7 linked regions of the Homo sapiens genome follow. The protein of the gene in region 1 purifies or fractionates together with the protein of each later gene. This does not show direct contact. Each region holds a gene or a part of one and is shown in the gene's direction. Other genes may lie near its edges. The genes, in order: USP26, CSRP2, IPO9, HP1BP3, PNO1, ZNF292 and NAA16.

Region 1 (3,961 bases):
AAGGTGCTGGGATTACAGGCGTGAGTCACCACGCCCAGCCCTACCAAGTTTACTTTCAACTGTAGTCTAAATTTATAATTCTCTGACCAGTCAGGAGACAGGTATGGGCTAGGTTATTTTTTTGCACTGGATTTTGCAGAATTTCTGCAACCTAACAAATGCAAACATCCCAGTACAAATCTGGGTCCTTCTCGCCACATCCAGCCCGGTGCTAACTGATGCCAGTGCTGACAGCACTCCCTTGCACCCCAATTCTAATGTTTTCCCATATTCCCCACCTGATAGCAGCAAGAGAGGGCCTGGTAAGAGAGGGAAAGGATCAGTGAATGCATCATGGAGGCGGCTGTGTTTGAGCTGGGACCTAATTGGTGGACAGAGATGGGGGGAAAGGAAATTCTAGTAGGAGGCTGATTACTCTTAAATAGTGGTCTACGACACAGACATTGGTGCTAGAGGGTCATGGATTCAAACGCTAGTATGGCCATTTCCTAGTTCTACTCGTGATCCCCTTCCTCAGTCCTCTTATCACCCCACATCCATTCTCCCAGTCGTATAAACTCTCTCCTAACTGCTTATGCTCACTTAGTTTAATGCCCATTCTGTTTAACTCACCTGCAATGGCGGCACCATCCCCAATTTAATGCCCTTACTTCCTATGCACAATTGTTAGGTGTACAGCTATTTAGGCTCATTTTTCACTGTAGATCCCCGTCCTGGCATCACGCCCGTTCCTTTTTCCCAAACGTAAATGCTGAGGGGTGGGTTTCAATTCCCTGCTACGAATTGAGTCTCATCCCAATGGTAGAAATGGCTGGGAAGATCTTTCCCGTACAAGGCAATAATATGCAAAAAATGTAAAAGCGGTTGGCGCGTTATTTGAATTCATTGCGGGAACCACGCAGAAAGTCTCGTGGGAGTTACTTTGTGATAGTTTTTTCCTTCCATTCCCCACAGTTCCTGCCACTGCACGCGCAACACCTCCAAGCAATAATCCTTCCCACCAATAAGGAGCAAAGGCCCGGGGTGTGGACGGACTTTCCTGTTATAGAGAAGGTGGGAGTAGACAGTATCCTGGTCAATTGTTTCAGTCACAACCAATCAGGATCTTTGAGGGTGGAGCCATACACTGGCAATAAAAGAAGCCTGCCCCTGTGGCGGGGCCCATTTTGTTTTCGATCGTTAAGTGGGCACGTGGTGGAGCGTTGGTGTGTCAGGGGTGTCGACTTCTTCCACAAACTATTGTAAGATCAATTTGCTTTTCATTTGTAATAGTTATTGAGAGTTAGATATTTGTAGTGTGCTTTCTATATGTGGCTATATGAAATGTAGTAGTATACTTTTTCTTTTCTTTTCGTTTTTCTGTTTTTGTTTTTTTTGAGACGGAGTCTCATTCTGTCATCCAGGCTGTAGTGCAGTGGCATGATCTCGGCCCATTGCAACCTCCGCCTCCTGGGTTTAAGCGATTCTCCTGCCTCATCCTCCTGAGTAACTGGGATTACAGGCGCCTGCCACGACGCCTGGCTAGTTTTTGTATTTTTAGTAGAGACAGAGATTCACCATATTTCTCAGGCTGAGCTCCAACACCTGACCTCAGGTGGTCCACCCGCCTCAGTGTCCCACACTGCTGGGATTACAGGCGTGAGTCACCACGCCTGGCCTCTCTTTCTGTTACTTTGGACCTGGAAAGAATCAGCTTCCCATTGGGAGGGATTGTGCACGGTATTAGGACAGTTAATGGCCATTAGCTGCTGCGATGTTGTTTGTATTTCTTTCTTTTAAAAATGTAATATTTGTGGTTATCTTTTGGAGTCGGTTCTTTCATCCACTCACTTTCAAATAAAAGAAAAGTTTTCTGGTGTTTAAAACTTGAAAATGTTGTCTGGTCAGTGCAGGAATTGTTCATTGACAACTTCAGATAGCCTCCTGTTGGTCATTCGCTATTTTGCATTTTTATACAGTATAGTTGTGAATTTAATTGTATTCCACGAAGAGTGCTTCTCATATTTTTCATTCATTTGCCTTTAAAAGTTTGGTCTTAATTGCAGTTGATGTTTTACAAACAATATGGATGCTCTGCCTCTCTAGCTGTGGTGGCTAGTGTTTGTAATCCCAGTGCTTTGGGAGGTGGGAAGGAGGCTTGAGTCCAGGAGTTAGAGACCAGCCTGAACAGCAGAGGGAGACCTCATTTCTACAAAAAAAAAAAAAAAAAAAAAAAAAAAAAAATTAGGCCGGGCGCCGTGGCTCATGCCTGTAATCCCAGCACTTTGGGAGGCTGAAGTGAGTGGATCTCCTGAGGTCAGGAGTTCGAGACTAGCCTGGTCAACACGGTGAAACCCCGTCTCTACTAAAAATATGAAAATCAGCCAGGCGTGGTGATATGTGCCTGTAATCCCATCTACTGGGGAGGCTGAGGCAAGAGAATCACTTGAAACCAGGAGGCGAAGGTTGCAGTGAGCCGAAATTGTGCCACTGCACTCTAGCCTGGGCGACACAGTGAGACTACATCTCAAAATAAATAAATAGCCAGATGTAGTCTCCCCGAGTAGTCTTGGCCACGTATGAGGACCTCTTTAGCCCAGGAGGACGAGGCTGAAGTGAGCTGCGTCTGTGCCACTGTACTGCAGCCTAGGCGACAGAGCGAGACCCTGTCTCTTAAAAAAATATTGTTGGCATTGGAAACTTCATAGGTTTCTTATGAAAGGTTTTGTACAAGTTTCAGTTTGCAGTAGAGGAAATTAACTGTCGATTGAGTGCATTTTATAACAGAACAGCCTATTTGGTATAATTTTATTTGTCCAAATTCTGGTCTTGTTTCCTCTTCATTAATTTCCTTATAAAATAAAAGTTTTGGAGTAATCTTGATTTACAAATGCACAATTTAATCATCTGGCTGTGTCCTTAATGTTTTGCACCAGTGACTGCACTTAAGTGTCTTATCATCGGCTGCCATTTAATGGAATTTGGAATTTTATTTTACAGAGGAATTCTGTGTTAGGTAGCATTTTATTCCATTAAATGTGGGTCCTAGTCCTTTTCATAAATTTTGTGTGAAGAAAGTTTTGTATTATCTTCAATTTACAAATAACGAAAAGAATTTTCTAATTGAAAGAATGTTTTGTGGCATTTTCTTTCTTTTCTTTTCTTTTCTTTCTTTCTTTCTTTTTTTTTTTTTTTTTTGACAAGAGTCTTGTTCTGTCGCCCAGGCTGGAGCGCAGTGGCACGATCCCAGCTCACTGCAACGTCTGCCTCCCAGGTTCAAGTGATTCTGTTGCCTCAGCCTCCCAAGTAGCTGGGATTACAGGTGCCCGCCCCTATGCCCAGCTAATTTTTCTATTTTTAGTAGAGACGGGGTTTCACCAAGTTGGCCAGACTGGTCTTGAACTCCTTACCTCAGGTGATCCACCCTCCTCGGCTTTCCAAAGTGCTGGGATTACAGGCGTGAGCCACTGTGCCCAGCCCGTTTGTGGTATTTTTAATGTAAAAATGCACACATTGCTAATTTGCCTGAGAGCTTGTTTTAGGACACTAAATTGTCACAAGTGCCAATCACCAGCCACTGCAGAAAGTTTTTTGGGATATCATATCCTGAAACAATTGTGTGTTGAGGTTCAATGTATTCAATTCTGCTCGAGTTTTTTGCATACGTTTCCTTTAAAAGACGGAGGTATTTCAGTGTGTAAATGAGGAAATTAACTGTAACGTCAAATGTTTACTTTCTGGCAGTGAACAGCCGTTGGAAGTCATGTTGCCTCATCTGAATTTTATTGTACAGTATAGTTGTGTGTTTAATATAATGGTATTTATACATTTTGGCATAGGTCCTCTTTCCAAGGTGTTCCTTCCCAGAAAAAAAAAAAAAAGGTTTCTATTTAAGAATAAGGAGGACAGAAGTTGTCTAGGGCCAGGTTAGGAGAGAAAATGGAAGTAGATCCTTCTAGATCCTTCTGGATCTTCTGCTCGC
Region 2 (4,249 bases), on another chromosome or scaffold:
TTGGCCCGTGAGTCAAGTCACTTACACTAGCTGATATCACTGAAATAAGGATTGCCCATATTTAGAAAAGCTCACAGCAGGCAAGAATGCTTTCCAGACTCCTGCCACAGTATCAGGAGATGTCAATCACCACTATGTGTTTTTGGACAGTACTTGGTGGACAGAGAACAAGGCAGCTATAATGAGTTTATCCTGGATTGGCCCCAGCATATAAAATAAAACAATAATAATATTATAAGTCGGTTCTGTACGTTGTCATGCGGATATGTGCTCCCTGCCCTCTCCCCAAGAGGGCATTTGGCAATGTCCAGAGACTTTTTGATTGTCACAACGTCGGGGGCAGGTTGCAACTGGCATCTAGTGGGTGGAGGCCTCCTACAATGCACAGGACAGCCCCCTACAATAAAGAATTATCCAGCCCAAGATGTCAATGGTGTGGAGGATGAGAAACTCTGGACCAGAGGAGGCAATAGCATTTATGGCATGAGGGGGTTTTGGTCACTGACTTTTTTGAACTCCCCACTCCGCAAGTATCAGTTCTCCGGGATCATTGCTTCTGGCAGGAGAGGTCATGAGGAGGCCTAGAATATGAACCAGATAGAGATTGCATTGTTTATTTTCCTTTTCATCTAAAACAATAAATCATCCTGTAGCTTAGGCATTAGGTCCCTTCGGATGTCACGGTATCCTTGTGCTTTTCTGACATCAACACATATAAATACAGGGCCTGTGGCGCCCGGGGTTTCTGCCTGGGTTTAGGTTTCTTCCCCCTCAGCATCGCGTGCTGTGCCCTGGTGGAGGGGAAGAGCGAAACACTTTGGGAATGGGGCGTTTTCGTAACGTCATTTATTTAGTCTAGATGAATTTTGCTCTTTAAGAATAAGAAGTTGTGGATTCCCAGAAGCTGGAAATCGGACGAGAGAATATGCGTTAACTAGGGAAGTTAATCACGTTGAGTTTACTGACAAGGACAAGGCAAGGGGGAGGTGGCGGAAAGCCCCGTTTGGCTGACTTTCTACTGCTGGAGCCTCCCGGCCCATGACTGTCTCCGCGAAGAGGGGGATCGGCGCTCGCGGTGGACAGGTCCGACGCAGGGCGGCGGGGGCCACTTTCCAGCGGGACCGTCCCGCCGCCGGGCCTCCCTGGAGGGGAAGGAAGTCCCTCTCCAAGTCCCAGTGGCTTTTGGAACTGCCGGGTCCCTTTGGGAGGGAGCGGTCCCGGGACGTGGGAAGATGCCGGGCGGGCGGGAAGCTGCAGGAAGAGGCGGGCCTCCTGCCTTTTGTCTCCTGGTGGCTAGCCCGGAGCGGGCAGAGGGCAGCCCGCCCGCTACACGCCCCAGCCCGGCAAGCGGCTCCGGGAATCCGGCGGGCGGGGCTGGGAGGAGGGCGGGGCGGACACAGGCCGCGCCCACCGAGCGCTCTTTAAAAGGCACCGGCGCGCGCTTCGCCTGGGATCTCGGACTCCCTGGACCCTCCCTCCAGCCCAGCCTCGCTAGCTCCGCCTGCGGTACGTGCTCCCGCCTCCGACTCAAGTGAGTAGGGGCGGTGGGGCGGTTCCGCGGCGCCGCCAACCCCGGGGCGGGAGTTGCAGGGGGTTTCCACCGCCTCCCGGGGTCGTGCTGTCGCCCGGCCGGCGCGCCCCGGTCTCCTCCGACATCCCCATCCCGGTCCGCATTTGTGCCCCTGCCAGCCTTCTCATCCCTGCGCCCCAGATTTTCTCTCTCTTATCCCCCAAACACACCTGCCCTTGTCCCCGAGGCCGTCCAGGCCATGCCCTGGGATCCCAGGCCCGCGGGGCAGGTAAATAATCTTATATGACCTTTAATTTCTCCATACTGGTTTCTCTGGGAGAGAGGCGGGTTGTGAGTTTCGCGTTTCTGCTAATCCGCCTCTTAGCAGCCGTCGGTCCCCTCGTCCAGCGGCAGGCTCTCTCTGGGGTGGGGGTCGGAGTCTCAGGGCCCCCTCTGCCCGGAGTGTGGTGAGCACCGAGGGCGACCTTACTGGGTTCTGTCCCCTAGGGGTGGAATGGGGCTTCTACATCCCCCCGAGCCCAGGGTACTGCTCCTGCCGCCGTACCGGGCTCCTGGCATCCCCATTGTTTGGTGGTGTCTGCCCACCCAGCACCGAACCCCTCTATGTTGAAGGAACAGCAGGGAATGTCAATCACTTACTCCTAGCTTTTTCCAGAACTTTCTACGATTCAGGTACAAAGAAGAATGCAAGAATGCTTGGTTGTGAAATTATGCGACAGGTCCTGCGAATCACATTCTGGGTTCTCCAGAGCCAGATTCAGGAGCTCCACGTAGGCACCCCCTGGGGGCGGGGGCGGGCTTTCTAAACCGGCGGATCCCTTTCCCCCTTCTAAGCCAGGACATTTGTTAAACGATTTTTACTTAAATGGCTACCCAAAATGTTTAACCTGTTTTATTTGCAGTCTGCAAACCAAGCACATTTTCCCTTTATAAATGCTTTTCGGTACAGAATTTTTTTTGGGGGGTGGGGGGGTGGGGCGGGGGCAGTTAGTAATTTTTTAACCCGGGCAGCGAAAATCGTCGTATTTAGTTCTTGACTTTTCCAATTAACCTGTTTTAAAACTCTCCTCATAAAATGCCAAGAATTCAAATAGGACAGCCACAAAGTTGGCTGTACTTTGACTCACGTTTTTCAAGAAAGAATTGGGTGATAGATTTTGAAAGGGAGAATCTAACATAGTTTCAGAACTGCATGCCAAGCTACAAAGAATGTTGTGAAGTACTAAGTGGTCTCCCCCAGTACTCCTGGGGTCATCGCTCTCGTCCATTGTCACTGATACTTTGTCAGTATTTCTCTGGGTCCTTTCTCCTCTGCATTGTAGTTTTCTTTGCTCTTTTGGTTCTGTGTTACCTTTGAGACCAGACCTGCATCACATGAGTCTTTGAAACTCACAGTGCTTGCTTGGGTACCTTGGACAATTGACTGAAAGAAGGAGCGAATAAGGTTGTGATTATAGGGAACAAAAATATAATTTGACTCACACAATAGGTATTTGTTTGCAGATTTGATCTAAAGTTCGTATCATAAATTTTTAATGCATTTCTCCGAATGTATTTAACAAATATTGATTGATACTGGTATAGGCTAAGTACTGTGCTGAAAGCAGTACTTGCTGGAGGCCTGTCCTGATGAAATTGCAAAATCACTTGGATTTGGGGGAGATTGAATTTTATCCTAAAACAGCAAGAATGTTGGTGTAGAGTAGAGGACAGCAATAAATGAGGAGTTTTAGAAGCCTGAGTCCAGAGGCAACTCTGACACTAAATTGCTATAGTGATCTGGGTCTCTAGGTTTTCTTCTTTGTCAAAAGTGAGGTGAATCAAATGAACCCCAAAAGGGAGCCCCCTATGGGAGAGGAGGCATGGCTGAAAGGGGGAGGAACGAAGCCAGGCAGGACCAAATTCACACCTCAACTCCAGTACCCATTGGTTTGATGCCCTTGGGCAAATTAACTTTACTCTTTGGCCTCAATACTTCATCATGTAAAATGGGTGTAGTGGCACATGCCTTGCAGGGTTGTCATAAGGCCTGTTGATACTTGTACAAAGCCCAGCCCAGCCTGGGAGTAGTTCCTTGTAATTAGACAAAGTTGTGCACTTGGTTGAATATATGTGGGAAAAGGCTATCAGTGAAAGTCTGTTTCAGGAGAGAGCTGGCTCACACCTGAAGAGCGTTTCCTAGACCTTGCCTGGAGGCCAGCTTTCTTCTCTGTGCAGATGTTCACAGGTTTCCTCAAGGCACCTTACCCTGACTGCCAGCATGCCATCCCTTGGGTTCTGTTGGGTGGGGATCCCCAGACACCTCTGGATCTTTGATTACCTAGGTGGGGTTTCTGACTTTTTATATCATGGCACTCCTGTGAGGCCTCCAGACCCCTTCTCAAAATGACGTAACATAAAGTATGTGGTACCAAGTTCCCCAACCCCCAGAATTAAAAGGAATTGTGGCCTTTGGGTTAAGAATCCTGAATTAAGGGAATATTTCTCAGTCTGGATAGTGGAGAAGCTGGGCACAATTTCTTTTTTTTATATTTTTTCCTTTTCAAATTCCTTTTTACCACAGGCACAATTTCTGATTGTTAAAAATTTTATTGTTGTAAGTCACAGAGGAAGAACTAATAGAAGTACATGGTGAATGATCTGGAAAGGATATCAGGTTCCTTGTTTTTTTGTTTACAATCTTATTGTGCCAACAATACTATTGTCTTCGACTAATAA
Region 3 (3,500 bases), on another chromosome or scaffold:
TCCCAAAGTGCTGGGATTACAGCCGTGAGCCACTGCACCCAGCCCACATTTTAGTTTTACCCTGGTAGAAGGAACCTTGTTTTCTGATTCTAGGAAACACTTTTTTTTTTTTTGAGACCGAGTCTCACTCTGTGGTCCAGGGCCCAGGCTGGAGTGCAGTGGCATGATCTCAGCTCACTGCAACCTCCACCTCCCAGGTTCAAGCAATTCTCGTGCCTCAGCCTCCCAAGTAGTTGGGATTACAGGCATGCACCACCATGCCTGGCTAATTTTTGTATTTTTAGCAGAGGCGGAGTTTAGCCATGTTGCCCAGGCTGATCTTGAACTCCTGAGCTCAAGCAGTCTGCCCACCTCAGCCTCCCAAAATGCTGAGATTACAGGCATGAGCCAACCGGCCAGGCCGGAAACACTCTTAAAACTTGAAGTTAATGAGAAATCTGGGATTTGGTGTCTATTATTATTTGTGTTCTGGTAATCTTTTGATCATTTTTTGGTTCCATGGGGCCCAGGATCAGGTGACAACCAGATCTAGTCCTCCCTCTGTCCTCTCAAATAACCACACTGTCTTTGTGAGCTGTTTATTAGTCCATCACATAGGAGACTGATCCCACATGGTCTTTAAGATTAACTGGTCCGTTCCCTTTGCCAAAAACATTTGTTACCTTCCTTGGCTACCAGGTGATGATCCCTTGTCTTGAAGATTAAATGGAAGAATATCTAATTTATGGGGAAAGGACACAGGTCAATTGTCAACTCCCTGTTAAAAGGACAGGCAAGAGAAGTTGACATGCTGTGACCAAATTGTACTATAGATGAGATTTTAAGAAGCAGTTATCTTAGAAAATAAAGATTGCTGGAGCCTAGAGTAGTCCTGATCATTTAGTGTACCAGCTGATATTTTCTGATAAATAAATAAATTGCCTATAATTAATTATCACATTTTCCAGAATGGGCACCTGTTCTCTTAAGCCAAGGAAGTGTGTGTATGTGAGAGATCCATTTGATTCATGTAGCGTGTCAATCTGAAAAGGATAAGATAGGTTACTTCATCAGCCTGGTGTCCTGGAATGATTTTTTTTTTTTTTTTAATTTTATTTTTTGAGACAGAGTCTCGCTCTGTCACCCAGGCTGGAGTGCATTGGCATGATCTCGGCTCACTGCAACATCCGCCTCCTAGATTCAAGTGATTCTCATGCCTAGGCCTCCCAAGTAGCTGGGATTACAGGCGCGTACCAACACGCCAGGCTAATTTTTGTATTTTTAGTAGAGATGGAGTTTCACCATGTTAGCCAGGCTGGTCTCGAACTCCTGACCTCAGGTGATCCACCCACCTTGCCCTCCCAAAGTGCTAGGATTACAGGCGTGAGCCACTGCGCCTGGCTGGAATGATTTTCTTGAGCCCCTGTGCTTGCTATTTTTGCTAGTCACTTGGAATCTGGAAGAAACCCAGCAAACCTCTCTGAATATTTAAAGTCTATTTAACAGGGCTAATTAGATAAGGAGATGATGCCAGTAACCACCTTCATCAGATAGCACTCCCATCCTGAATTGAGAAGAACATTGCTTGAAAGTTTGGAAGTTATTATGGTGTACAGTATTCTGCAGATAATTGTTAACCTTTCATTTTTCTTTCTTTCTTTTTTTTAAGATACAGAGTTTTGCTCTGTCACCCAGGCTAGAGTGCAGTGGTGTGATCATAGCTTACTGCAGCTTCTAACTCCTGGGCTTACGCAGTCCTCCCAACCTCAGCCTCCCAAGTGGCTGTGACTACAAGCACATGCCCATACTTGGCTGATTTTTTTAGTTTTTTTCTGGAGATGGGGTCTTGCTGTGTTGACCAGGCTGGCCTTGAACTCCTGCCCTCAAGTGATCCTCCTAAAGTGCTGAGATTATAGGCATGAGCAACCACACCTGGCCCCTTTCATTTTTCTTAGGAGGATTGAGATTTTGAGTTTGATCAGGTTTGTAGGAAATTTACTTCTACCTAAATAGGGTAAAAAAAATTTTTTTTAAGTTTTTTTATTCGTTAGAGTAAAAAAACTTTTCTTTTCTTTTTTTTTTTTGTTGCACTGCTAAGAGTCTAAAGCATGCTTTCTAATTCTGTTTTGTTTAATAGGCAGGTTCATATTAAGCACTTTACAAACATAGTAGTTAAAAAGACTGGAGAGGTTATGAACCACCGAAGATCTCTTACGTCAAAGTCTCATATTCTGTACTCAGCTTCATCAACTCTTTTTCTTTTGTTTTTGTCTGACTTACGGTGAGATCATGAGAATTACCATCTTTTGAGAATGTCAGCCTTTTATTTTTGGTGTATTCGTGCTTTATTTTTTTATATCTTAAAATGAAGTTCTTTCCCTCTTTTTCTACTTCTTTCTCTACTTTTCCTCTAAGAATGGCATTATCCAAGTGGTGGAATGGGTTGCTTTCATTCAGAAGCTTTAATTCTTCGTGCCAGCATGCACAGACTTTCTTACATAACTAGATTTAGACCCTAGGACATTTTCTTCTTTGCTTATTTCTTTTTTGCCTATTACAAATGATGACATTTCCCCTATCATTTGGCCTTGTCTAGTTCCCAGTAGATAAGTCACAGAGAATACATTTTTCTTCCCTTCTACCACCATTATGTTGAACAGGGGAGGGGGGAAATTATCTCTCCCTCACCTTTCCTGGCATTCAGATGCTGCCGAGATACCTGTATTGATTTCCCCATCTTAGATGCCTAGAGAGATGATCCTGCTGGCTGGAAGTTTGCTTTCTGGTTCTCATGGGCACTTTTCTGGCTCTTTTGCAGTATAGCGTAAGCACTGTCCACCTGCGAAGGGCGCCCCTCAAGGATCCAGACGCACTCCTGGGCATGTGGCGGGCACTGAGCCGAGCGGAAGGCGGCCACGCTCGGAAAAAGGCCAGTGGTGGAGTTTTCTTTTTCCTTTCAGCTGTGGTTTTGTGGTGCTTACCAACTCCCATGAGAAATAGGGGGCTTGTCCAGGGGGTCTACTCAAAACCGCATCCTTCTCCAACAATCCCTGTTCACAATTCTTATTAGTTGACTGTCAAAGTACTGCCAAGTCTTGTCTCTCTAGGAGACCCTTCAGACCAATAGCATGTATTTCTTAAGTGATCCTTTATCCTCCATGCTCTCCTTTGGGTTTTCCCTTCTAAACCAAGTTTTAGATAGATAATGTTTTTGCCATATGGGGTGATAAGAGAGAAAGGGGAGCAAGGATAACGAGAGGGAAGCAAAAGACTAAAAGAGAATGAGACTAGAGAATGAAAGAGGGCAGAGGATTTCTTAGGAAGTCAAAGGATGCCATTTTGGATAGGAATAAAGGTATAATTAAGGAGAATCTAGAGTCAGGGTGAAAACCCAGATTAACAGAATGAACTGTCCTTATTTCACCATGGGAAAGGGAACTAGAGAAATTAAATTTCCTAACAAAAATAGCTTTAGAAAACAACTTCATATAGCCCTCTTGGCAGTGTTGCCCTTTGGCTCA
Region 4 (4,151 bases), on another chromosome or scaffold:
AGATGGGGTCTAATTATGTTGCCCTGGCTGGCCTCGAACTCCTGGCCCCAAGCCTCATGCAATCCTCCCACCTCGGCCTCCCAAAGTGCAGGGACTACAGGCGTAAACCACCATGCTCGGCCTAAGTTTTGTTGTTGTTGTTTTAAGCAAAAATCTGTGGAGGAGGAAACATCTCCCAGTTTGCTCTCATCTGAGTCTGCTTCTTACATGAGATGGGTCTAAAGACATTTTAGGGTAAAAGAAGAACGGTAGGATGTTTTAAATGTACGAATACATAAAAATGGAAGTCTTTGAAAAGGAAGACAACAGAAACGTTAACAACGAAGGGAGTGAGCAGAATGAAGAATGGCATAAAAGAGCAAAACCCCTTCTGAACAGCTGGAATATGACACCAGAGTACTAAAGACTGGTAATGCCATCAGGATATGAATGATAACGCACACCTCGTAAAGAATTTTTTATGCTGGCTGTGAAATTTGAACTGATAGAGTGGGGTGGCTGTGGCAGGGAAAGCTGGTGAGACAATTATGCTAATGGCAGGGCCAGACGACTGGGTGAGTGCTTAAATGGTGTCGTAAGTCTTTATAAACCTTGGCACATACGTTTGAGTACTGGTCATCTACTGTAAGCTTGGGACAATTCTACTGGTATTTCCTTACATTTATTACCCAGTCCCTCCCCTGTCCCCCAACACCTGAAACTTTAAAAACAATCTTTCCAAACTAGCTTTGAAGAGCTGTACTTTTCCTTCGTATGTACGTTGTTTAAGTACGCTGATAGCAACGCAATATGACAATTCAAAGGGAATCCCGTCTTCTAATCTCAGGGTTTTCATTCTGGGGAACTCTCCCTGCATGTGAGGATTAGGGAGCCCGGAAAGCCCGTTTCAACTTTTCAGTTCTGAGTCCCGAGTCACTACTCTGCCCTGTACCGTCTGGAGACTTAATGGGAGCGAGTGCGAGGCAGTGAATTCTCCGCTCTCTAGTTTTCCAATTCTACGGTCTTCAAAAAAAGGTTTGCTCTTGAGCTGCGCCTAAACTGAGAAGCGGGAAAGGCTAGCCCCGCTAAAGGCGGACGAGTGGCAGAAGCGGAAACCCAGTTAAGAGAAGGGACTGCCCTGGAGAGCACAGAAAGCGAAGGTTAGCGGGGGAAAGCGGCGCCCCTCCGAGGAAACCGACACCGCCCCGCCACGCCAAGGCAATGGGCGCCACCACGCAGCGCCGGGAACGCGCGCCGACGCCCCGCGCTCCGCCGGCGTCCGCCCGTCCCCGCGCGCCCCCTCGCACCCCACGCGCGGGAGGCGGGGCCGGCGGGGGCGCGCGCGGGGCCGCGGGTAGGGGGGCGGGGCGGCAGAGCTCGGCGGCTGGGACTGGAGGACAGCGGTGGCGGAGGCGACTAGCGGCGGCGGGAGCGGCGCCGAGAGGCCGTGCGGGACGCGGGCGCCAGGACCGGCCGAACGCAGAGGTAACGCAGGACCGAACAGGCGGCCGGGGAGTGGGCGCGGGCTCGCTGGGCCCCGAAGGCGAGTGGCGGAGGCCGCTCGCCCGGGGCGCCGACGCCGCTCCCAGAGAGGAGGGGGCGGGGCGCCCGGGTCCCCGGAGGTGGCGCCTTTTGTCTGCCTTACCCGGCCGCTCCGCCCCGCTCCCTTCCTCTCTCCTGCGACCTAGCCCCCTGCCCTTTTGGTGGACTCCTCCTCAGGGGCCCTCCGGCGCGCGCGCTCCCGCCCTTGTTTTGTTTGGATTTGGGGGAGGAGGGGGAGCTCTTCTCTGGCCGTGCGACCCTGCGTCCCAGCGCGCCTGCGTCGGCGTCCTCTGCCCGCCCCGATTGGCTGAGGGCTGCGCATGCTCCGAGGCCCGCCGCGGTCCGGCGTCCGCCCGCGCCCTCCCCTCACCCCACTCCCTCAGCGGTTTTCGGAGCCGGTTCGAAAGATGCCGGCGGCGGTGACTGGCTGCGGCGGGCCCGCCCCCCGGGTTCTCCGCCCCCGCCGCCGCCATTACGGAGCTCCCAGTGGTGAGTGTGCGGAGCGCCGAGGCTCGCGTTCCGCCGCTGCTTCCGTCGCCGGGGCGGGCGCCGCGGTGTCCCTGCCGAGCGTGAGCCCCGAACTGTCACCGCGCCGAGCCCCAGCCTCATCCGTCGGTGTCCGCGGTCCGAGCTTTCCCCGCCTCGCTGGCGGCCCGCGCTCTCCCCCGCCGTGCGCGTTCGCCGCTGTGGCCTGTAGCTACCTCGCCTCGCTGCTTTGTCTCCGCTGCTCTTGCCGTCCTTCCCGCGGCCTTCTGCGGGCGGGGCTGTCGGCTGTCGCTTTGCTGCTCCGCGACGGCGGCCTTGAGTCTCGCTCCCCCGGTGGGAAACGTAGAACTGGTTACTCGCCACCTTAGGCGGTGGGGTTTGAATGAGAGCGGTGCCTCGGTAGGTCGTCAGAAAGTTACAGTCGCCCATCTGAGCGTTTGTAAGAGATGGAGGCAGGAGTGGTGAGGTGAGAGCCCCAGATCTGAGGGTTGGTACTGCATTAACAGCTGTGACCGGGGACAGCCACTTAACCTTTTTGAGAAAGAGTTGTCTCCCGTACGGAGACCGGACCGGGTGAACTGTGCTGCCGCATCCGCGTGCACGTTCTCTCTGTTGTTTATTGTGCTTCCTGACTTTGCATTGCATTAAAAAGTGAGAATCCAATTCGAAATAACGTCTAAAAATCGCCTGGGGCTTTTTGAGCACGCTGTCTTGTCTTAGAGTGAAATTAGAGGTGACTAGTGTCATTTTTGAAAGGTGCTCTAATTTTGTTTAACCTGACATAGGCAAAAAACTTGTTAGCTTTTTGATTTTTCATTGCTCTTCTCAAAAGTTTAGTGTAATTTGTTTCAAAATAGAAGTAACATTTTAAAGTTTGCTGGGTTGGTTGGTTTTGGCTTTGTTTTTAAGCTTGCTTGGAAGATTGTAGGGCTGGAAGTTAGTGGAGAACGTATACTGAACTCTTCATTTCCGGATGAAAGTTTTAACTCCTTACCCAGTTAGATTGTGATTTTATTGAGATGAGACACTGTAGTGTCCTTAGTATCTATGCCCAAAACAGACACTGAGTATATGTTTGCTTATATAACTTACATTTGAAAATGAAAAACAAGTGGTGTCAGCAGTCAAATTACAGGCATGCTTTTTGTGACATGACTCGTTAAATCTGAGTGTAGTGAATGACTTAAGATTGGGAACAATGTGAGGTGTTCAGCGCATCACTAATGACATGTATTACATATATTTTATGGTAAAATGTGAAATTATAGTGCTTTCCCTAAAATGCATATTATCAAGGATATCAGTAAACTGAAATACGTTGTTAAACTCCTCACTTTTCTACAGCCTTCTCTTAATGTAGAGGAAATAAATTAAAACTGAAATTTGGGGCTTTTTATTTCTACAATACTTTTTTTTATTGCTTGCATTCAAATAATTTAAAGCCGTGCATGGTGGCTCACACCTGTAATCCTAACACTTTGGGAGGCCAAAGAGGAGGATCGCTTGAATCCAGGAGTTAGAGACCAGCTTGGGCAACCCTGTCTCTACAGAAAATACAAAAACTATCCGGCTGTGGTGGCGCATACCTGAAGTCCCAGCTACTCAGGTGGCTGAGGTGGGAGGAGATCGCTTGAGCCCAGGAGGTCGAGGCTACAGTGATCCCTGGTCATGCCACTGTACTCCAGACTGAGACTCTGTCTCAAAATAAACAACCGATTTAATTTAAGCATTTCCCTTGACAAAAAGCAAATATTTGTTATTGTTGTAACATTAAGTTTAAGCAAGCTGATGTTCATAAGAGGACCATGTAAACCACAAGTAAACTCAGACTGTTTATTTTTGGCACATATAAAAACCAAGATGAAAAACATGAATAGGCCGGGCACGGTGGCTCACGCCTGTAATCCCAGCCCTTTGGGAGGCTGAGGTGGGCGGATCACGAGGTCAGGAGATCGAGACCATCCTGGCTAACACGGTGAAACCCCGTCTCTACTGAAAATACAAAAAATTAGCTGGGTGTCGTGGCGGACGCCTGTAGTCCCAGCTACTCAGGAGGCTGAGGCAGGAGAATGGCGTGAACCGGGAGGGGAGGTTGCAGTGAGCCGAGATCGCGCCACCGCACTCCAGCCTGGGCGACAGAGCAA
Region 5 (3,500 bases), on another chromosome or scaffold:
GGCCGAAGTGGGAGGATCACCTGAGCCCAGAAGGTTGAAGCTGCAGGGAACCACGATCGTGCCACTGTACTCAACCCTGGGCGACAGAGTGAGACTCTAACAAAATAAAAATAAAAATACCACATATAGTCTGGGCGCAGTGGATCATGCCCATAATCCCAGCACTTTGGGAGGCCAAGGTGGGAGGAAGGAATGCTTGAGCCCTGAAGTTCAAGACCAGCCTGGGCAACATAGGGATCTCCATCTCTACAAAAAATATAAAAATTAGGTGTGATTGTGCACACCTGTAGCCCTAGCTGCTCAGGAGGCTCAGGTGGGAGGATTGCTTGAACCAAGGATGTCAAGACCACAGTGAACCATGATGGCACCACTGCACTCTAGCCTGGGTGACAGAGTGAAACCTTGTATCCAAAAAATAAAAAATTAATTAATTTAAAATCCATATACAGATGCTCCTCACCGTATGGTGGGGTTACGTCCAGATAAACCTGTTGTAAATTAATGATCTCATAAGTCAGAAGTTCATTTGATACTTCATTTGATATCATAGGATACTTCTCTTTGAAAACTGAAGAGCATTCCGAGTGTGTACCACTTTGGCGCAATTATAAAGTCAAAAAAAAATCTTCGGTTAAATCATCAAGTCATGGACTGGCTGAGTAGCCCTGAAAGCTTTCATGAATTTAGAAATCCATGGCCCGGCACGGTGGCTCACACCTGTAATCCCAGCACTTTGGGAGGCCGAGGCGGGCGGATCACGAGGTCAGGAGATCGAGACCATCCCGGCTAAAACGGTGAAACCCTGTCTCTACTAAAAATACAAAAAATTAGCCGGGCGTAGTGGCGGGCGCCTGTAGTCCCAGCTACTTGGGAGGCTGAGGCAGGAGAATGGCGTGAACCCGGGAGGCGGAGCTTGCAGTGAGCCGAGATCCCGCCACTGCACTCCAGCCTGGGCGACAGAGCGAGACTCCGTCTCAAAAAAAAAAAAAAAACAACAAAAAAAAAAAAACTAGCTGGGTGTGGTGGCACATGCCTGTTATCCCAGTTACTTGGGAGACTGAGGCAGGAGAATTGCTTGAACCTGGGAGGCGGAGACTGCAGTGAGTCAAGATTGCACCACTGCATTCCAGCCTGGGCGACAGAGTGAGACTCCATCTCAAAAAAAAAAAAAAAAAAAACGGCTGGGCATGGTGCCTCACACCTGTAATTTCAGCACTTTGGGAGGCTAAGGCGGGTGGATCACCTGAGGTTAGGAATTCGAAACCAGCCTGGGCGACAGTGAGACTCTGTCTCAAAAAAAAAAAGAATTTAGAAATCTAAAACTAACTGATTTGCCAATGAAATTATATAGTCTGTCATTAAGTTTATTACTGGTAAATTTATAAGTATATTTGTAAGTGTTAACCTAAAATTTACTAGTTAAACCAACGTTTTAGAAGTTTATTGTGGCATAATTTACATACAATAAAATTCTATTGTTTTAAGTATCCCGTTCAATGAGTTTTTGGCAAATGTATATTGTAGTCCCATGACACTCATACAGTTCTCTTACCCTGAAAGTTCCCTCGTGCATCTTTATGGTCAGTTGCCTGCCCCCACCCTTTTCTGGGACAACCATTGCTCTTGTTTCTGTCACTCTTATTTTGCATTTTCTAGAAATTCATATAAATGGAAATACACAGTATGTAGGCTTTGGTGTATGACTTCTCTTAATTAGCATGTTATTTTGGATTTCTCCATTTTGTTGGGTGTATCAGTAGTTCCTTTTTATTGGCAAGTACTATTTCATTGCACAGGTATACTGTTGACCCTTGAATATTGCAGGGATTAGGGATGCTGAACCCCTAACATGGTTGAAAATCCATGTATGTATGACTTGACTCTCCCAAAACTTAACTACTCCTGCTTTTGGCTGGAAGCTATACCAATAACAAACAGTTGATAAACACATATTTTGTATGTTATATGTATTATATACTGTACTCTTTCATAAAGTAAGCTAGAGAAAAAATGTTATTAAGAAAATTATAAGGAAGAGAAAATCTATCTACTCTTCATTAAGTGGAAGTGGGTTATCATAAAGGTCTTCATGGTGAATAAGCTAAGGAAGACGAGGAAGAGGGGTTAATCTTGCTGTCTCATGGGTGGCAGAGGAGGAAGATGTGGAAGGCGAGGCAGGAGAGGCAAGCATACTCTGGAACTTTACAGAAATACATTGTAATTTCTGACTTTTTTGCCCTTTCACTTCTCTAAAAATGTTTCTGTAGGGTACCAATCCTCTTCCACAGTTTTTAGTTTCAGTGCCCACGTCATAAAAGGGTCTATGTCATAAAAGACGTCAAAAGCATCTTGAATAATCAGAAACCTTCTGCCAAATTGTCTAATGTCACCTTGTTTTCTGACACTGCTGCTTCTACATCATCTTCCTCATCACCCGGCACTGCTTCAGAAGCACTCACCTCCATCAAGTCGTCTTCTGTTAATTCCTCTGGCATAGTGTCTGTTAGCTCTTGATTTCTCCGTGATCCATATCTTGAAACCCTTCACCCCTCACTTTTGGCCATATCCACAGTCTCTTTCATGATTTCTTGTTTGGCTCTGTCGTAAATCCTGTACTGTCATGCAAAACCTCTGGACATGGTTTTCTCCAGCAGGAATTTATAGCTGCAGGCATGAGGCTTTCACAGCTTTTTCCATAATAATGACAGTGTCTTCAATGGCATGGTCCTTCCAGACTTTTATGATGTTCTTTCCATCGAGTTCTCTTCCATAGCATTGACACTATTTTCCATAGAGTAGTGTGTGTAATGAACCTTAAAGGTCTTTATGACTACCTGTTCTGGAGGCTGAATTAGAGAGTGGGTGCAAGGAGACCACTTTGTTGCCTTTCGGTATTGAACTCATGGGGTTCTTGGGTGGCTGGGACATTGCTCAACATCAAAAGAGCTTTAAAAGGCATTCCTTACTGGCAAGATACTTCCTGACTTCAGGGAAAAAGCATCAATGGAATCAATCCAGAAAAAGAGCTCTCCTTGTGCAAGCCTTCTTGTACATCCAGAAGACAGGCCACTGGTGTTTACCTTTTCCCTTCAAGGATCGGGGTTAGCAGCTTTATAGATAACGGCAGTCCTGATCATAAACCTGACTGCATTTGCACAAAACAGTAAAGATAGCCTATCCTTTCCTGCATTAAATCCTGGTGTTTGCTTCTCTTCTTTACTAATAATTGCCCTTTGTGACATTTTTTTCCAGAACAGGACGTTTTTCATCTGCACAAAAAACCTGTTCAGGCAGATATTATTTCTCCTCAGTGATTTTCTTAATGGCATCTGGGAACTTGTCTGCTGCCCTTTGGTGAGCAGAAGCTGCTTCTCCTGTTACCCTGACATTTTTAAAGCCACCTCTTTCTAACATTATCGAAGCATCCTTTGCTGGCGTTAAGTTCTCCAGCTTTAGATCCTTCATTTTCCTTTTGCTGTAAGTTGTCATATAATGACTTA
Region 6 (2,879 bases), on another chromosome or scaffold:
ATAGTTCATTTCACCTGTTTAAGACTTACTACCAATAAGCATAAAACCTGACACGTTAAAATCCCTGCCCTTTGGTGAGCCCACTGTTATTTATTAAAATAAAAGTTATTTTATGGGTGATTAATACATGGGTTTTCTTTTTCCTAAATTAACAATAATTTAAATAACTGAGTAATTTTAATATTAAATTTTTGTTAACAACTGAATGTTTCCATACAGTTTTCTTAGAAATTGACCTAGCTCTTAAAGGTGGGCACTTGGCAAAACTGCCCTATATAGCACAGTAGCAAGTAGGTTTATTTCTGATCATTGTAACTATGAGCCACTGTTAAGTGAAAATGCCAATGTATTGGGGCTTTTCTTTTGCTCATTAGCTTAAGAAAATTTATAACTAGACATTTCTAATTGTTTTACATGTCATGGGGAAGAGTTTGCCAACATTTAATGAAATTTTTATATTCCAGGTAATGTATACTAAAGGTAATTATGAGAGTGGGCTTTTTAGCATGAAACAAAAAAAATCAAACTATGGTAAAAAGACATGAATTTATAGAATAGCATGTTGGTAAATTTTGATACGGAATGTAATGTCTAAGTATTAAAAAATCATAAAATATATTTTTTTCATGGTATACTTTTCCCCAGCCTATTGTCTTGAGATATCTTCTACAGCCTAAATTTGCTAAAGTTTCATCACTAAAAAGTAGGAGTTTTTCCTCTTCTGAACCCGCAAAGTTTGCATATTACAGGTCAGAATTGTATTATTCAAAATACATCACCTTAAGTGAAATGTAACAGTTTTTGAAATTTTCAACGGTGTTAAATTTAACATAGGTACATTATTATTTTAAAGGGCTAGACATATTTTTAAGGCAAATTTTTATCAAGTGAGCAGTCACAGTTGCTGTAGATAATATGAAAGTACAATAATACTATACCTAGGGACATCAGAAAGAATGCCCTATTTTTCTGGAAAAGGAGGTAGGTAGTTGGGAAAGTCTTTGTAGAAAATATGAGTTTTGAAAGATGAATGAATGCTCATTGGTTCAGGGGGACAAGGGAATTCCAGACTTGGGGGTAGAGCGTAATTGCGGTATTGCCAGTGGGCCACTTGGAAAGATAGGAAGTTGAAGAAGGTGAAGCTGAAGAAGCAGATGGGTGGTGGGATCAGGAGTGTTCTTGTATGCTGTATTAAGTCTTTATTTTGGTTTTTGAAAATTGTTATTGGATGCATGTATATTGAACAATTTAATCAGTATCAGTTTTAGAAAGATAATTGTCATGGTATAGTGGATAAATTGAGTAAGTTGGAGATTAATTAGGGGGACCTAAAATAGTCCAGGCAAAAAATGATGGGAGCCAGAAGAAAGGCTAACGAAGTTGGGGAAGAGACTAATGGATAAGAGAGATAATAAAAAGTAATGTCTAAGGCAGCCTGTTTCAGCATGTTTATTGTAGTGAGATACTAGGCAGGTGGAAGGTTATTGCTGTGATGAAATAAGTTTTCTAAATTGTGTGCTGTAGTTCTCTCTCTCTCTCTCTCTTTTTTTTTCTTTGTTTTTTTTGGAGACAGAGTCTCGCTCTGTTGCCCAGGCTGGAGTGCAGTGTTGCACGATCTCGGCTTACTGCAACTTCTGCCTCCCAAGTTCAAGTGATTCTCCTGCCTCAGCCTCCCCAGTAGCTGGGACTACAGATGCATGCTATCACACCCAGCTAATTTTGTAGTTTTGGCACAATCTCAGCTCAGTGCAACTTCCATCTCCCAGGTTCAAGTGATTCTCCTACCTCAGCCACCCAAGTAGGTGCACACCACCACACCTGGCTGATTTTATATTTTTAGTAGAGACGGTTTCACCATGTTGGCCAGGCTGGTCTTGAACTCCTGACCTCAGGTGATCACCCACCTCCACCTCCCAAAGTGCAGGTATTACAAGCATGAGCCACCACACCCAGCCTCTCTTAAATAATTTAATGCATGTTTGCATATTAAAGACAAAAGTTCTACTGTAAATATGTAAAAAGTTGAAAGGGAATTTTCCAGACTTAATTGACCCTGAGAACATTTTTCTTCTTTTAATGTTAATACTTAGTTATATCCCACTGAACTAGCATTCTAAAGAACACACTTTGGGAAATGCTGATCTCAAATGGCATTTATTCAACCAGGACTGATAATCAACGTGTACACCAATTCAATTGTATCAGCTGTTTGCAAATGGTGATTATTCTGATTGATCAATTTATATATCCCAATGGGTTGATTCCTTTGCTGTATTGGTTGTTAATGTTTTGAATATTACCCGGTATTCAAGTAATGCTCATTGAATTTCAAGTAATTGTGATTAAACGTTGATTAAAATCCAGTCATACTTGCCAGAAGCCCCTGCCTTTAAACATTCTTATCCTACTTCCCATTTCCCACTCTTCTCATTTCATTGAACGCATAGTAACCTTCCTTCCCCACTTCAAAGCCTATCTGGAATGCTTATTTCTCTTATTTCTATGGGTGACTCCATATCCCGTCAGTTCACAGCTTAAATGTCACCTCATCGGAAAGACACCCAGATCATAAAGTTTCACATGCCCATTCTTTACAACAGTTTTTTAAAAAATACTTACTTTAATCTATATCTTCCAACACTACCAGTCAATGAAGAAAATGATAATAATACCTGTGTTCTTCAATGACTTTGCCACAATCAAACCCCATATCACTTCCAAATCTTGAATTCAATTTATTTTTCTGGCCACAAACTTGTAGCTCACCTGCTCAAGATATCTCTGCTAAAAGAATACTTCTACCTTATTACTACCACTTGCTGACTATTCATCAGCTTACTCCTGTCCTCAGCTTGTTCAGCCTAGAAACTAGCTAGATC
Region 7 (3,500 bases), on another chromosome or scaffold:
TGAACTTTAAAATACATTATTTGATCCTTTAACAACCTTAAGAAATTGGCTGTATGGATTTCTTTATTCTTAACTTAGATTAAATAATTGTCTAGGAAATTAAAAGGCTTATTCAGGGTCGCATCCCTAATAAGAAGCTTATCTCTTGAGTGGGCAAATACTGTGCTTACTGAATGTCTGCTATGTATTAGGCCCTGTGGCAGGCGGTGGGTAAGGATTGCCCTTGAAAATGGTAGAGTTGAGTAGAGCAGTCAGATTTGTAAATATTTAGTGTGAACCTACACATATTTAGTCTTCATTCAGAGCTCTGTTTAACTGTGCCATGCTGGTTTTTAGGGAATATGGAGGAAGAGTATTTCATTAAAACTAAAATATTAATATATACTAACTTTCAGGTTTAAAAAATAACCTGATCTTTTGACTTATATAGAAGTTGAGTATCATCACAAAACATGATTTGTAGGGAATGGGCATGGTTTGTAGGAAGAGAAAGTTCAAGTTGAATGCCAAAAATAATTCATATCCTTTATAGTGTAAAACATTGGAGAGGGCAGCTAAGTGAAAATTGTGACTGTTTAAATTGTTTTTTGGGCTTTTTACAATTTTTTTTTTCTAAAGGTAGACATTATTGACATAAATGTAAAGGTTAATTTTGTGATTTTTGTTTTTAAGCATTTTTTTGAGATAACTGATGACCAATTCGACTTCCATACATACTGCATGAGAAAGATGACCCTTCGTGCCTATGTTGACCTTTTGAGATTAGAAGATATACTCAGAAGACATGCCTTTTATTTCAAGGCTGCTAGATCAGCGATTGAAATATACTTGAAATTGTATGATAATCCCTTAACCAATGAAAGCAAACAACAAGAAATAAACTCAGGTAACTGAATAGGAACTTAAAAGATTTTAAAAGGACACTAAATTTCAGAATGCCATTAGCGTAAACAATACCTAGAAAAATATTAATATATTGTCTGTTGGAGTTGAAGACAAACATTAGATAACTCATATGCCAAAAAACAAAAATGTTGCAGAGAGAGTTAAAAAAAGTGGGATGATATTCTGTAGCTGATGGTTCTAAATTACTTTAATGGAACAACTTAGAATTTTTTTTATTTTTGTCTTCAGAAAGACCAATTTAAGAACTGGGTATGGTGGTTCACGCCTGTAATCACAGCATTTTGGGAGGCCAAGGCAGGCAGATCATTTGAGGCCAGGAGTTCAAGACCAGTCTGGGCAACATAGCATGACCCCTGTCGCTACAAAAATTTTAAAAAGACGAGTTTAGGAAACATAGAAATGTCTGTGGACTAGTTTTTTTCTTTCTTTTTTAAAAAATTGTAACTGAAAATAGCTTTGAGCTCCTTAGGAAAAAATATATAATCTTAAAATTTCTAGTTCCTACTTTATTAAAAATAAGAATATCAGTGAGAATATCTGTACAGTTTTTTATTCACTAGAATGTTAATATCTAGGAATATTTGAGAAATAGTTAGCATGAAATGAGCCTAGGTAACTATCTCAGATATTCCTAGGTAGCTGTTCATTTCTAATATTTATATAGTATTTAGAGATCACAGGTGTTTATATGTATTATCTCACTTATTCTTGAAAGACTTGATACTGAGAAGGACAAAGTGATTTGCCTGGAGTCATATATTGTGTAGGAGGCAGAACTGGGCTACTATTGGTCAATTTTAGTTAATGCAACATTTACTGGCTGTCCTTTGTGTGCCCAATTTTGTTCTAGTCACTGGGGATACACTTTCTAAAAGCTTTTATATGGGTTGCCTCTGCATCCCTCCTTGCCCAGACAAAAAACAGAAAAAAAAAGTATACAGCTGGCCCTCCATTTTTGTGGGTTCCACATGGGTGGAACAAATCATAAATATGTTTTTTTAAATTGCATCTGTACTGAACATGTCCAGACTTTTTTTCTTGTCATTATTAGTATTTCCTGAACAATGCAGTGTAACAACTATTTACATAGCATTTACATTATTTTAGGCATACCTATAGACCATAATATAATTTATGAAAAAGTGAAGTCATTATATGCAACTTAAAGCAAAAGGAAGGTGAAAGATTTAAAGCTGATCTAATTAAAAGTATACAGGAGGATGTACATAGGTTGTATGGAAATACTGTGTCATTTTATATCACAGGCTTGAGTATCAGTGGACTTTGTGGGGGTGGGGGTCATGAACCAATCCCCCACTGATACCAAGGGACAACCATACTAACAGTATGTATTACAGAAGAATATGAAGAAAATGCAAACATTGGCTCAGAATTTTGTTCATTTGGATATTTATAGAAAACTTGTCAGCCAAAGAATTGAAGAAAATGCTTAGCAAGCAGAGAAGAGCTCAGAAAAAGGCTAAACTAGAAGAAGAAAGAAAGCATGCAGAAAGAGAACGTCAACAGAAAAATCAAAAGAAAAAAAGAGATGAAGAAGAAGAAGAAGCCAGTGGCCTTAAGGAAGAACTTATACCTGAAAAATTAGAAAGGGTGAGATGGGTTTTACTATCTTTGTTATTTGGTAAAATTTATGCTATTTGGTTCCGTTCTGACAGTTAACATGATTTATTTAAATCTGTAAGAAGCCATTTGAAATATTTCAAGGTTTTTATAATAGCCGTCAATTATCTTTGAGTGACAGTATACAAATTTTGGCTAATGCAAGTTATACATAGAATTGCAATTGTGGTAGGCAGAGTAATGGCCCTGCAAAGGTGTCTGTGTTCTGGTCCCCCCAGCCTGTGAATATGTAACCTTACATGGCAAGGGAGAATTAAGGTGGGAGATGGAATTTATGGTTGTAATGAATTGACCTCAAGATAGATTAGCCTGGATTGTCCATGTGGTCCTAATATCGTCAAAAGGGGCCTTAAAAGTTGAGGATGCCAGCAGCAGAGGTCAGAATGATGCAATGTGAGGAGGACTCAACCTGCTGTTGCTGGCTTTGAAGATGGAAGGAGGGTGCCCCAAGCTAAGGAGTGTGGGCAGTCTAGAGAGGCTGAAAAAGGCATTGAACGGATTCCCCCTTCGAATCTCCAAAGGAAATGCAGTCCTGCTGACACCTTGATTGTAAGCCCAGTGAGACTGTGTTGGGCTTTTAACCTATAAGAACTATAACATAATAAGTGTGTTGTTTTAAGTCAATAAATATTTGGTAATTTGTTACAGCAGCAATACAATTGTCCATTACATATGGAATCATTTTACCTTATATGTCTTACTAGAAATGTTGTAGCTACAAAGAGATAGCACCTCCAGGATTTTCTCAAGTGTTAATAGTTGTTTTGGGATCAGATTTAAGGAAATATTTAGTTTTCTGGTTTATTCACTGTAAGTCTAGTACAGTTGGCCTTTGAACAACATAGGTTTGAATTTTGAGGGTCCAGCAAAGGATGGTTTGATAATTTTAGAAAGATGTTTGGGTTAAAAAATGTCCAGATAACAGAAGAATTAACTTCTCACCAAGAGCTGGC

The links.
Region 2: the proteins of USP26 (region 1) and CSRP2 purify together in Homo sapiens (affinity purification with mass spectrometry, with the first as the bait; one large-scale study listed by BioGRID). This does not show direct contact.
Region 3: the proteins of USP26 (region 1) and IPO9 purify together in Homo sapiens (affinity purification with mass spectrometry, with the first as the bait; one large-scale study listed by BioGRID). This does not show direct contact.
Region 4: the proteins of USP26 (region 1) and HP1BP3 purify together in Homo sapiens (affinity purification with mass spectrometry, with the first as the bait; one large-scale study listed by BioGRID). This does not show direct contact.
Region 5: the proteins of USP26 (region 1) and PNO1 purify together in Homo sapiens (affinity purification with mass spectrometry, with the first as the bait; one large-scale study listed by BioGRID). This does not show direct contact.
Region 6: the proteins of USP26 (region 1) and ZNF292 purify together in Homo sapiens (affinity purification with mass spectrometry, with the first as the bait; one large-scale study listed by BioGRID). This does not show direct contact.
Region 7: the proteins of USP26 (region 1) and NAA16 purify together in Homo sapiens (affinity purification with mass spectrometry, with the first as the bait; one large-scale study listed by BioGRID). This does not show direct contact.

What each region holds. Positions count from the first base shown.
Region 1 is NC_000023.11:133,094,310-133,098,270, reverse strand, and holds the start of USP26 (ubiquitin carboxyl-terminal hydrolase 26), read left to right. Parts: upstream 1-1,161; 5' UTR 1,162-1,241; intron 1,242-3,961. UniProt on the Homo sapiens protein: Deubiquitinase regulating several biological processes through the deubiquitination of components of these processes.
Region 2 is NC_000012.12:76,876,220-76,880,468, reverse strand, and holds the start of CSRP2 (cysteine and glycine-rich protein 2), read left to right. Parts: upstream 1-1,449; 5' UTR 1,450-1,530; coding exon of another isoform or gene 1,531-1,531; exon of another isoform or gene 1,532-1,799; intron 1,800-1,818; exon of another isoform or gene 1,819-2,110; intron 2,111-2,186; exon of another isoform or gene 2,187-2,301; intron 2,302-4,249.
Region 3 is NC_000001.11:201,832,157-201,835,656, forward strand, and holds part of IPO9 (importin-9), read left to right. Parts: intron 1-3,500. UniProt on the Homo sapiens protein: Nuclear transport receptor that mediates nuclear import of proteins, such as histones, proteasome and actin. Serves as receptor for nuclear localization signals (NLS) in cargo substrates.
Region 4 is NC_000001.11:20,784,508-20,788,658, reverse strand, and holds the start of HP1BP3 (heterochromatin protein 1-binding protein 3), read left to right. Parts: upstream 1-1,351; 5' UTR 1,352-1,464; intron 1,465-1,986; exon of another isoform or gene 1,987-2,473; intron 2,474-4,151. UniProt on the Homo sapiens protein: Component of heterochromatin that maintains heterochromatin integrity during G1/S progression and regulates the duration of G1 phase to critically influence cell proliferative capacity.
Region 5 is NC_000002.12:68,164,388-68,167,887, forward strand, and holds part of PNO1 (RNA-binding protein PNO1), read left to right. Parts: intron 1-550; coding exon of another isoform or gene 551-572; exon of another isoform or gene 573-1,487; intron 1,488-3,500. UniProt on the Homo sapiens protein: Part of the small subunit (SSU) processome, first precursor of the small eukaryotic ribosomal subunit.
Region 6 is NC_000006.12:87,263,565-87,266,443, forward strand, and holds the end of ZNF292 (zinc finger protein 292), read left to right. Parts: 3' UTR 1-2,379; downstream 2,380-2,879. UniProt on the Homo sapiens protein: May be involved in transcriptional regulation.
Region 7 is NC_000013.11:41,366,767-41,370,266, forward strand, and holds part of NAA16 (N-alpha-acetyltransferase 16, NatA auxiliary subunit), read left to right. Parts: intron 1-672; coding exon 673-886; intron 887-2,323; coding exon 2,324-2,517; intron 2,518-3,500. UniProt on the Homo sapiens protein: Auxillary subunit of the N-terminal acetyltransferase A (NatA) complex which displays alpha (N-terminal) acetyltransferase activity.